Homo sapiens: one gene and its partners. The protein of the gene in region 3 purifies or fractionates together with the protein of the main gene of each other region. This does not show direct contact. Each region holds a gene or a part of one and is shown on either strand. Other genes may lie near its edges. The genes, in order: DDI2, HERC3 and MOGAT2.

The links.
Region 1: the proteins of MOGAT2 (region 3) and DDI2 purify together in Homo sapiens (affinity purification with mass spectrometry; one large-scale study listed by BioGRID and IntAct). This does not show direct contact.
Region 2: the proteins of MOGAT2 (region 3) and HERC3 purify together in Homo sapiens (affinity purification with mass spectrometry, with the first as the bait; one large-scale study listed by BioGRID). This does not show direct contact.

Annotation. Positions count from the first base shown.
Region 1 is NC_000001.11:15,630,914-15,634,565, forward strand, and holds part of DDI2 (protein DDI1 homolog 2), read left to right. Parts: intron 1-2,525; coding exon 2,526-2,652; intron 2,653-3,652. UniProt on the Homo sapiens protein: Aspartic protease that mediates the cleavage of NFE2L1/NRF1 at 'Leu-104', thereby promoting release of NFE2L1/NRF1 from the endoplasmic reticulum membrane.
Region 2 is NC_000004.12:88,668,908-88,672,559, reverse strand, and holds part of HERC3 (probable E3 ubiquitin-protein ligase HERC3), read right to left. Parts: intron 2,701-3,652; coding exon 2,537-2,700; intron 2,422-2,536; coding exon 2,308-2,421; intron 1-2,307. UniProt on the Homo sapiens protein: E3 ubiquitin-protein ligase which accepts ubiquitin from an E2 ubiquitin-conjugating enzyme in the form of a thioester and then directly transfers the ubiquitin to targeted substrates.
Region 3 is NC_000011.10:75,720,706-75,724,357, reverse strand, and holds part of MOGAT2 (2-acylglycerol O-acyltransferase 2), read right to left. Parts: intron 1-3,652.

The DNA of each region.
Region 1 (3,652 bases), on a different chromosome or scaffold from region 3:
GCTCACTGCCAGCTCCGCCTCCCGGGTTCATGCCATTCTCCTGCCTCAGCCTCCCAAGTAGCTGGGACTACAGGCGCATGCTGCCACACCTGGCTAATTTTTTGTATTTTTATTAGAGACGGGGTTTCACCGTGTTAGCCAGGATGGTCTCGATCTCCTGACCTCGTGATCCGCCTGCCTCGGCCTCCCAAAGTGCTGGGATTACAGGTGTGAGCCACCATGCCCAGCCAGTACCGATATTTTAACCTTAGTTAGATCTTCAATTAAAGAGATCATCAACAAGCCAGCTGATGCCAGCTGATGCCAGGAAGGTTCAGTGCCCTGTATGGCAAAATGGAATCACCATAACCTCAGTCCACTCCAAGTTATTTTTTGTATTTTTTGTAGAGATGGAGTTTTGCCATGTTGTCCAGGCTGCTTTCGAATTCTTGGGCTCAAGCAGTCTGCCTGCCTTGGCCTCCCAAAGTGCTGGGATTACAGGCATGAGCAGTTGCACCCAGCTAACTTGTAGCCATCTTTATGAATCGAGTTTTCTCTGTAAATTACTCTCATTTTACTCTTGGGTTTATGAGTTAAATTGGGTTAAGTCTAAAAACATAACAGACACTTAATGACTCATTCCTCAATTGACTGTCTTTAAATTGGCAATCTTTACCTTAAGCGAAGTACTCAGATTTTAAATATACAATTCCTTGAGTTTTGACAAACTCCTGTAACCCCAATCAAGACACAGGACATTTCTCTCACTCCAGAAAGTTCCACTGTGTTGCTTTCTAGTCAATCTCCTCTCCTTATAGGTTACTACTGTTTTGATAATCTTATGGTTTAGTTTCCCGTATTTTTAAACTTCATGTATATGGAATAATAGAGTGTCTGCTCTTTCGTGTTAGGCTTTGTTTTTTTTTTTCTTGAGACGGAGTTTCACTCTGTCTCCCAGGCTGGAGTGCAGTGGCGCGATCTCTGCTCACTGCAACCTTCGCCTCCTGGGTTCAAGCGATTCTCCCGCCTCAGTGTCCCAAGTAGCTGGGACTACAGGCGTGCACCACCACACCCGGCTAATTTTTGTATTATTAGTAGAGATTGGGTTTCACCATGTTGGCCAGGCTGGTCTCAAACTCCTGACCTCGTGATCCACCCGTCTCGGCTTCCCAAAGTACTGAGATTACAGGCGTGAGCCACCACTCCCAGCTCGTGTTAGGCTTTTCACTCAACTTAATGCTTTTTAGATCCATCTGTATTGTGTGCATTAGTAGTTCAGATAACCATTGTCATAATATCTTTTAATCTCTTATATCAGCATATCTAATCACCAAAGATGGTGATGATGGGGCATTTAAGTTTGCACACTTAAATGTACCACCATTTAAGAAATTGCAAAATAGGCCGGGCACGGTGGATCACCTGAGGTCAGGAGTTCAAGACCAGCCTGGCCAACATGGTGAAACCCAGTCTCTACTAATAATACAAAAATTAGCTGGACGTGGTGGCAGGTACCTGTAATCCCAGCTACTTGGGAGGCTGAGGCAGGAGAATCACTTGAACCTGGGAGGTGGAGGTTGTAGTGAGCCAAGATTGCGCCATTGCTCCCCAGCCTGGGCAACAAGAGCGAAACTCCATCTCAAAAAAAAAGAAATTGCAAAATAGGTTCTTGTTGTAACATACATCTTATAGCAAGCAGTGTTTTCTCTACTAATTTTCCTGCCTATTAATTCATCAGAACACACACAAAATATAGGTAGACTAAAAATAGTTTATACTTAATGTATCTGGCTTAAGGCAGGGCATGTTATAAAAGAAATGAAACTAGAAGAGGAAAAGGAGATTATATAATGCTGTATTTTGTTTCTAGGTAGTAGGATAATGAGAACAATGAGGAATGGAGGAGTGGAGACATTGATCTGCCACATGGTCACTCCCCACCATTTTAAATTGGAAAGTTGTTACCTCTGAGTAGAAACAATATGATAGATAACTTCTTATAAAAAATTTTTGCAAATACTTTTTTTTTTTTTTTTTTTAAAAAAAAAAAAACAGGGTCTCACCATGTCACCCAGGCTGGAGTGTGTGGTGCGATCACAGCTCACTGCATCCTCGACCTCCTGGGCTCAGGCCATCCCCCCACCCTTGAACCCCCATCCAACAGTAGCTGGGACTACAGGCATGCACCACCACGCCCAACTAATTTTTATATTTTTTGTAGAGACAAGGTCTTGCTATGTTGCCCAGGCTGGTCTCGAACTCCTAGGCTCAAACGGTCCTCCCACCTCAGCCTCCCAAAGTGTCGAGATTATAGGCATGAGCTACCACACCCAGCCACAAATACTTTCTTTACACTGAATTTAAATGATGAAATAGCCTTGACTCAGAGAACAGAAAGTAAATGTAATTGCTCATTTTAAATAAGCTTTAGGCATCCTCTCTGCATCTCTTACAGATGTAGTTTGATAAATTGTTTGGTGTGGAAAAGTACTGATAAACGTTGAAAATATAGTGATATTTAAGATTTTTCTCCCTTATTTTTGTAGAGAAATTTTCTAGAGTCCTGGTGGAGCAGCAGCAGGACCGAGCCCGGAGAGAGCAAGAAAGGATTCGTCTGTTTTCTGCTGATCCCTTTGACCTTGAAGCTCAGGCAAAGATAGAAGAAGATATAAGGTAAAGACCTGTTCATCTAAAGAACAAAACTTAGAGACTCCAGATTTCCCAGACTGCAGGTTATCTGACATTGGTTGGGCATCTGCTTGGAGGTAGCTTCTCTGTTTTGCAGTTGAGATAGTAACCTCAGTCTTTTAGGTTAGTCTCTCCTCTTTCATTTTCTATGCATTTCGATTTGACATGACAAAGATATAGGTGCTTAGTTTAATGACTTTCTTTCTAAAATTTTAAGGAGGACTCCCTGACTAGCAGACAGAGCATCATAACACAGCTTTAGATAAATGACCCCCGGACTGAGCAGAAGCCACCATCTGGTGAGACCACAAGGCTGGTTGCATATTACATGGGCTGATTTGACTCTCTTTCTTTAGACATATTGTATAAGTCCTGATTAAATCCAGGGCTTAAACATGATTGGATTAGAGAGGGCTCTGCGCCGATGGAACGTTGGTAGTCCTAAGTCTGTTTTCCTGCTGCATTTCTTGTACTGGCCTCAGTGGATAAACTGAATGCTGGACATGTTTCCAGCTCTCAGTTTCTGTAATGCGGTGGTTCTCACCTGGGGCTATAGTAAAATCACATGAGAAACTTTTAAAAATGCAGATGCTTGGACTCTTCTCCCAAATCTGATGAATCAGAATTGTCGGGCATGGAGCTCAAGCAAGGACAGTGACGCTGTTCCGGCCTCAGTCACACTGATAGTCACAAGCAAGATTCTGTTCAGTCATTCTCTGAAAAAAAGGACAGCTGCTTTTCCTGCCTCAAGTCAGTTTTTGTTGCTAATTGTGAAGAACTTAGTATAACTAAGAAGAAGATAACAGCAACGATACTTACTACACTTAGACTGCTTGGCCTTTTAGGGACCGTGTCATCATTCCGGTTACTTAAATGAAGCCTAACTTGGTCATTGTATTACACTATCTATCAACTTAGAAATTAAATCATGCTTTTTTAAACTTCTTATTCTTTTTATCTTTTTTTTTTTGAGACAAGGTCTCAC
Region 2 (3,652 bases), on a different chromosome or scaffold from region 3:
TCCATCTATTATTTAAAAGTAGTTAAACAAAAATAACATATGAAATAGCTTTAGTATTTTAAATTAAACTTCAAAATATCAAGACATTTAAAATTCAATTTCTAATAGCATTGTACCTCATACAATAAAAAAAATTCCACAAAAATCACAAAAGGCCATATACTAATTTCATGTAATTTTCCATATTTCTTTAATAACTATTATAGTTATTGAAGAGATGAGCATCTGTTATTCAAGATCTGATAAGATATTTATCAAATGTTAAAAGAAAGGAAGTTTAAAATATTGTAAAAGTTACTTAAATATCTCTACTCAGAGACTACTGTCATAATAATCTAGATTTTAACATGAGCAACTTCTTTTTCAGAGTAAAAAAGAATTACAATTTGTTAGACTTATTTTATTCAGCATCAAGTCACAGAAAGGGTAGATTAGAAATCAGAAGAATTGACTTTTACTGCTACTAATGAAATTAGTGGAAAAATTGTTTAACTTCCATTTCCTCATCTAGAAACAAAGCAGTTGGACTAAATAATTCATCAGGCTTATTTTTCTGCTCATAATGTTATTATTCAGTGAATAATTATTCATAAATTGATAAAACAGAAGGGCTTATTTTTTAATAATTCCTAAATTTGAAAGTGAAAACAGAGTTCATTACTAGCCTCCATGTTAAATTTCCCAAGTCAGCCCATTTAGAACACTCTAACTCATTTATATTAAAAAGTATTTTCCTGGCCAGGCACAGTGGCTTACCCCTGTAATCCCAGCACTTTGGGAGGCCGAGGCTGGTGAATCACTTGAGCTCATGAGTTCAAGGCCAGCTTGGGAAACATCACAAAACCCCATCTCTACAAAAAATACAAAAATTAGCCAGGCATGATGGCACGCACCTGTAGTCCCAGCTACTCGGGAGGCTGAGGTGGGAGAATGGCTTGAGCCTGGGAAGCAGAGGTTGCAGTGAGCCAAGATGGTGCCACTGCACTCCAGCCTGGGTGATAGAGCCAGACCTTGTCTCAAAAAAAAAGTATTTTGTTTTCTCAGGGTAATCATAAAATCTTATTTAAAAATAAAACATTGTATGCATTTTTTAAGTCTCTAGAGAAAAAAATACAACATTGTGTCTAGCATTCATCATCTATTATTTGACAAAGAAAACAATCCTTCTTGTTCAGTTAGATCAGCCTATTTAAATGTCTTGCTTTTGGAGACAACTGCTGACTTCCAAAAACCCCACAGGAAAAATATTGCCCTAATACTGGTGATGAACCTGCTACACTGGCAAGGACTCACCTCAAATCTGCTGCACATGGCTTCACAAAATACAATAACCAAATTATCATTCTGTTTTCTGACCTAACTCAAATTTGCACATACTCCACAGATGGGAGATCCTAAAGAGCCTTGCATATATCCCAAGCTGGTGTGCTATCAAAAGGAGCAGTTCCTGCCACGCCAGAGGTGGTAGGCAGGAATCCACAGGCCCCTGAATGGCATATCTAAAATACGGTGAGACAGCACTTGGTCAGGGATGTGTGACACTTTCACACACATAATTCTCAATCAGAAGGGGCCTACGGGGTCCAGGTAGCTGACATATGATGACTGGAGTAGGCTGTCAGAAGATGATAATTAGCAAATGACCCTTCCTCAATGTCAGGGATAAATTACGCTGCAGTGGGAATTGTGGCATATACATAAGCCTCATCTAAAGAGTCACTCTTGAACTCCAGCCACTTGGTGTCATATGGGAAGACAGGTCGTGTTGCCAGATCTTCCAAGTTTTGAGGAAAGCTAAAAATTCATATTTGTATGTGTCTTGTTTTTTTAATTATGGTTTAAAAAAAAACCTAACATAACATGTACCATCTTAAGCATTTTTAAGTGTACACTTTCAGCAGTGTTAAGTATAGTCACACTGGTGTACAATTGGATCTCCAAACTTTCTTATCTTGCAAAACTGAAGCTATACTCATTAAATAGCAACTCTCCATTTTCCCCTGCCTCCAGCCCCTAGCAATCACCACTGTACTTTCTGTTTCTGTGGATTTGACTACTTTAGATACTCTGATTTTTTTAAAGGGGGCAACTGATAAAATGTGTAACATTCTGGGTGACTACTCATTTATGACTCCTTATAACATTGATGATTACTTAAAGCACTTCCAAGTTTCTAGAATGCAAAAGGCCAGCTGGATGAAGAATAGGTGACACACTGACATCAAAGTCAAAGACATATTATACAGCTCACATGTGCTTTTCTTATAAAAAGACTAAAGCTTTAAAATATGCTTTATGAATTCTTACCATCCCTGCTTGATGCAAGAACCACATGAGGTAGTCTTCCTGAATGTCCACGAGATTGGAAATCTCAGGAATGTAAAATGTATCATATTCCACATGCTTCACTTTAAGATTTACCTAATGAAGAACAAAATACAGACAACTGAAACATGGCTTCCCAGAGAACATCTCACTAGGACATTTTACCCTACCATCTAATCACCCCCTCCCCACTAGCACCTCCTATGCTCACCTTATATAACTTCTCCAAGAGTTTGAGAGCTGCTGTGATATAATTGTTAAACAGTACGGGAATTAAGAATGTCTTTCTTCCCCTCAGTAGATAAAGGACTGCACCTTTATAGAGGTTTACCAGCTTCATGAAATATTTCGGGCATACCTGAGACCACCAGTTATCTTTAGAAAGAAAGAAAAGACATATTTCAACATGTAATCTTGGGCAAGTATTTATGTCTTCTGCCTGCCAGTTAAAAATTGCTTTGTCTAGAAGATAAACATTAGTCTAAAATACATTTTCCCAAAACTGACTTTAAAAAGAATCCATTAAAACCTTTTTGGGGAGAACAACAGCTGTAAAAGAATCCCTGGAGCTTTTTTTGTAAAGCCTGGTCTGATTTTTTGCAAAGACTCAATCTGAAGGTTAACTTAAAAGTCCAATTCCAGACTACATGTGGACAAGATACACATATTTTGGGCAGGAGTGATGCCCAATGTATTAATCCAAAAAGCATTCTTATGTCCTAGCGCTTTCAGCCATCACTAAATCCTGAAGCAGAAATGCAAAGGATGACGCACCACATACCCTAGAAGCAGCACCAATATGGCAACCATTCCCTTCCCTTTAAGAGGTATCATTAGTTGAAAAACTACGATTTTTACTTCTCACCAAAAAATGCTTTCTCATAACCAGACAAGAAGATATACCACTGGCTTATACTTCGTTGGAAATAAACTCAGCCATACTGAAATACTTAAAGAATGAAATAGTATGTCTGAGATTTCCTTTAAAATACTCCAACAAAAAATAAAAAGGTGGTGAGGGCGAGGGACAGATGAAATAAAATGGGCAAAATACTGACAACTGCTGAATTTGTGTGGTGACTACCTGTAGCATACTCTCTACTTTGGGGTATTCTTTTAAATATCAATAATTAGAAGTTAAAAATAAAGTGTAAAATTGAACAATTATGTTCTCTTTGTATTTTCCAGCCTGGAAAAATAAAAATGAAAAAACTCTAAAACTTGAAAGTCAGGTAAGATTTCTTCTGATATTGCCACCTCTCTGTTTCACATCAACTAGAACACCTGAGAAAATGTGCCCCCAAAAGGCTTTTGATCTTAAAAAAAA
Region 3 (3,652 bases):
TGGACCCAAATCTATCACAACATCCCTGTGAAGATTACAGACCATGTATCTGATGCATCTGTGTCCCCAGTGCAGGCCTGGAACAGAGGAGATGCTCTGGAAAGGGTATAGCATGAAGGAAGGAAGGAATGAGCCCAATGGATGAGGCTGGTACAGCCTCAGAAGGAAGGCTCCCTGACCCCAATCCTATCCTGGCATGTCACCAGGGTTCCACTAGTGGGAAAAAGAACCTTGAGTCAGGAGACCCCGGTTCTGCCGCTGGCTCATCACATGACCATTGCCAAGCCCCTGTCCCCTCTGTGGCTCAATTATTTCTGTCCCACAGGACACTGATAACGCCTCCCTGGCAGGGTTGCTACAGGGTTCAAGGGGGGTAAACAAAGAAGAGGGGAGGTTTGTGAAGTGCTGTGGTCTGTCTCCCTCCCTCAGTTCTGTTAGGCGAGGGGAGTGTGACTAAGCGAAGATAGATGGCTGTCTGGGGAAAATCCTGCCTGGGTGCATGCCCTGGCAGGCTGGGTGTGCAGTAGGCAGTGGGGCCTGGAGAAGGGCACAGCCAGGTTACTAGGCTCTGGGGGCTGCTATTGCTTTTAGTTGATATAATTTATGCACCATAAAATGCATCCGTTTAAAGTATGACATTCAGGGTTTCAGTATATTTAAAAGGTGTGGGATAGGTGTGGTGGCTCACACCTCTAATCTCAGCATTTTGGGAGGCCAAGCAGCCTGGCAACACAGTGAGACTCCATCTCTACAAACATTTTTTTAAAAGTTGTGGTGGTGCGTGTCTGTAGTCCAAGCTACTTGGGAGGCTGAGGCAGGAGGATTGCTTGAGCCCAGGAATGAGGATCCCTACTGTCTCTTCACCCCATGATCCCTGCGGGGCCTGGGCAGTAAAGGCGTGTGGGAGGGTGGGAGGGTCTATGGAAAGAGCGTCTACAGGCCACAGCCCCACCCCACAGGCCCAGCTTAGGACATAGTCAAAATGAACATCATCTCGCCCTCTGCTGGCCACTCAGTGGCATTGTCACCCTCGGCAGATGGTGCTGCAAAGGGCCTGCGGTGAGGAAGGATCCTGGAAAAAAAAACAAAAAACAAAACAGTGCACAGAGCCAGGTGCAGTGTCTGACACCTGTAATCCCAGCACTTTGGGAGGCTAAGGTGGGCGGTCAGGAGTTCGAGACCAGCCTGGCCAACATGGTGAAATCCCGTCTCTACTAAAAAAATACAAATCAGCCGGGAGTGGTGGCGGGCACCTGTAATCCCAGCTACTCAGGAGGCTGAGGCAGGAGAATCGCTTGAACCTGGGAGGTGGAGGTTGCAGTGAGCCGAGATCACGCCACTGCATTCCAGACTGGGCAACAAAAGTGAAACTCCGTCTCGAAAAAAACAAAAACAAAACCAAAACAAAGAAACAAAAAGATGCACATAGAATTTCTGCAAATCGAGGCCTGTGTCCCACCAGTGTCAACAGTACTAAGGTTGAGATATCCTCCTCAAAAGCCACCTGGCTGGGGAAGGAGCAGGAAGGACGGACGTTGATAGGGTAGGCGCAGAGCTGCCTCAGCATTTCTGCCAGACCTGCAAATGGAAATGCTCCAGGTGCAAAGAGGGCCAGATGCTGTCCTTTGAGGCCATTGGGCTGGCTGAAGACACCCCGGGAGAACTTTCAGGTGAGCAGTCCCAGTCCTGCGGAATGTCCTCCAATGGCCTCCACCCTCTGACCTGAGGGCCTCCCCAGCCTCCTCTGCAGGCCTGCCTTCTGCTTTAGCCGCGCTGAATGTCAGGCTGTGGCTCAGAACTCACCCTGCGGCAAGTGTCTGGGCCTGTGCTTGTGTGTTTGCCTTTTCAGGCTGCTTTTCCTTTCCCCCCCGGTGAGCTTGGGATTCAGCTCAAGAGTGGGAAGTGAGACCAGAGCCAGAACCTCTGAAGCTCTCCCGGAGGCCAGAGCCTGCTTCAGGTTTTCTTTGGCTTGGTCCCTGATGTCACACACACGTCCCCAGGCTGGCCACAGCACACTTTCCCAGGGAAACTCTGACCTTCCTGGCACAGAAGAGGAAGCCCAGGCTGGAGAGAGGAGAGGCAGGAAAGGGAGGTGAATCTCAAAGTGCAGAGGTCCTGGGGTGGGGATGAGGACTCTGCCTCTGACACGTCCATGACTGCTCCCAGAACTCAGCAAGCCCTAAGTTTCTTTGCTGACAAGACCCAGGAGTGGGCCCTGCAGGAAACACATATGAGGTGCAGGGGAAACTGCCCCCATCCTGAGCCCCCCAGGCTAGACCATGTTCCGCCTTACCACATCTACCACCCTTCGTGAGCACGGCAGTCTCTGCCAGCCGCTGCCCGCTGTCTGCCCAGCACCCCCATTGCCCTTTGCCCTGGAGGCCCTGCTCACTGCAGTGCTAGAGGCTCCTGCATTCCAGCTGTGGCTCAGCCTTTGCTAGTCCTTCTTGGGCCCCTGGACTCTCAGAAGGGAGCAAGGCAGGAACCCCAACCACCCTGCGTTCCCATAATTCAGACAAGTTGCTTAACTTTGGTGGGTTTGTTTCCTCTACCCCTCCCCCTTTGCAAGCTGGAGACCTTGTTTCTGATGGGACAGGAAGAGGTAGGGTTCCCAGGCGGGGTGGGAGAAGTTACGTAGGTGTGGAGGTCAGAGCAGCAGGGCTTGGGCTCTCAGAGTCCTCCCCAGACTCGAGGTCACGACCACACTTCCTCAGAGTCCCACTGCCGAGGTAAAATAATACTAGCTACCTGTTTACTGAAAACCTACAAAGTGCTAGCCAGGCACAGTGGCTCACACCTGTAATCCCAGCACTTTGGGAGGCTAAGGTGGGCAGATCACCTAAGGTCGGGAGTTCGAGACCAGCCTGACCAACATGGAGAAACCCCGTCTCTACTAAAAATACAAAAATTAGCCAGGTGTGGTGGCCGGCACCTGTAGCCCCAGCTACACGGGAGGCTGAGGTAGGAGAATTGCTTGAACCTGGGAGGTGGAGGTTGCAATGAGCTGAGATCGTGCCATTGCACTCCAGCCTGGGTGACAGAGCGAGACTCCATCTCAAAAAAAAAAGAAAACCTACAAAGTGCTTTACTTGCTTTGTCTCATTGAATCTACACAACCCAGTGAGGTATGTGTCATTATCCCCATTTTACATATGAGGAAACTGAGGCTCAGAGAGACCAACTTACCTACGATCATACAGCTGATATGGTATGGGGCAGACTTGGGATCAGAATCTAGTCTGCCTGTCTCCACGGGCCATATCTTACCCCTTTCTTCTCTCCTGCTTCCAGAGGAGGGCCAACTGCCCCTGCCTGTCCCTTCTCTGCGTCCCCACTGCCTTCCCCATCCTATCCCTTCTGGCCAATAAACCATCACTGCCTGGCTGCATAGATCAAGGCTTTAAATTGCCTGGGATTCCGTTGAAGGAGCCGAAAGATCTGCTCACTCAAATCCAGGGATCTGCTCTGCTCTGGACACAACTTCAAGTCCAGGGCCCAGCGTCCACAATGACCACGAGGTGACAGGAGTCGGAAAGCCAGAGATTTGAAGGCATGCAGAGGAGGAGGAATCAGTGTACTTACTAGATACATGGGGAGACTGAGCCTCAGAACAGGATAAAGCTTTGCCCAAAGATATACCACATGCCAGAGT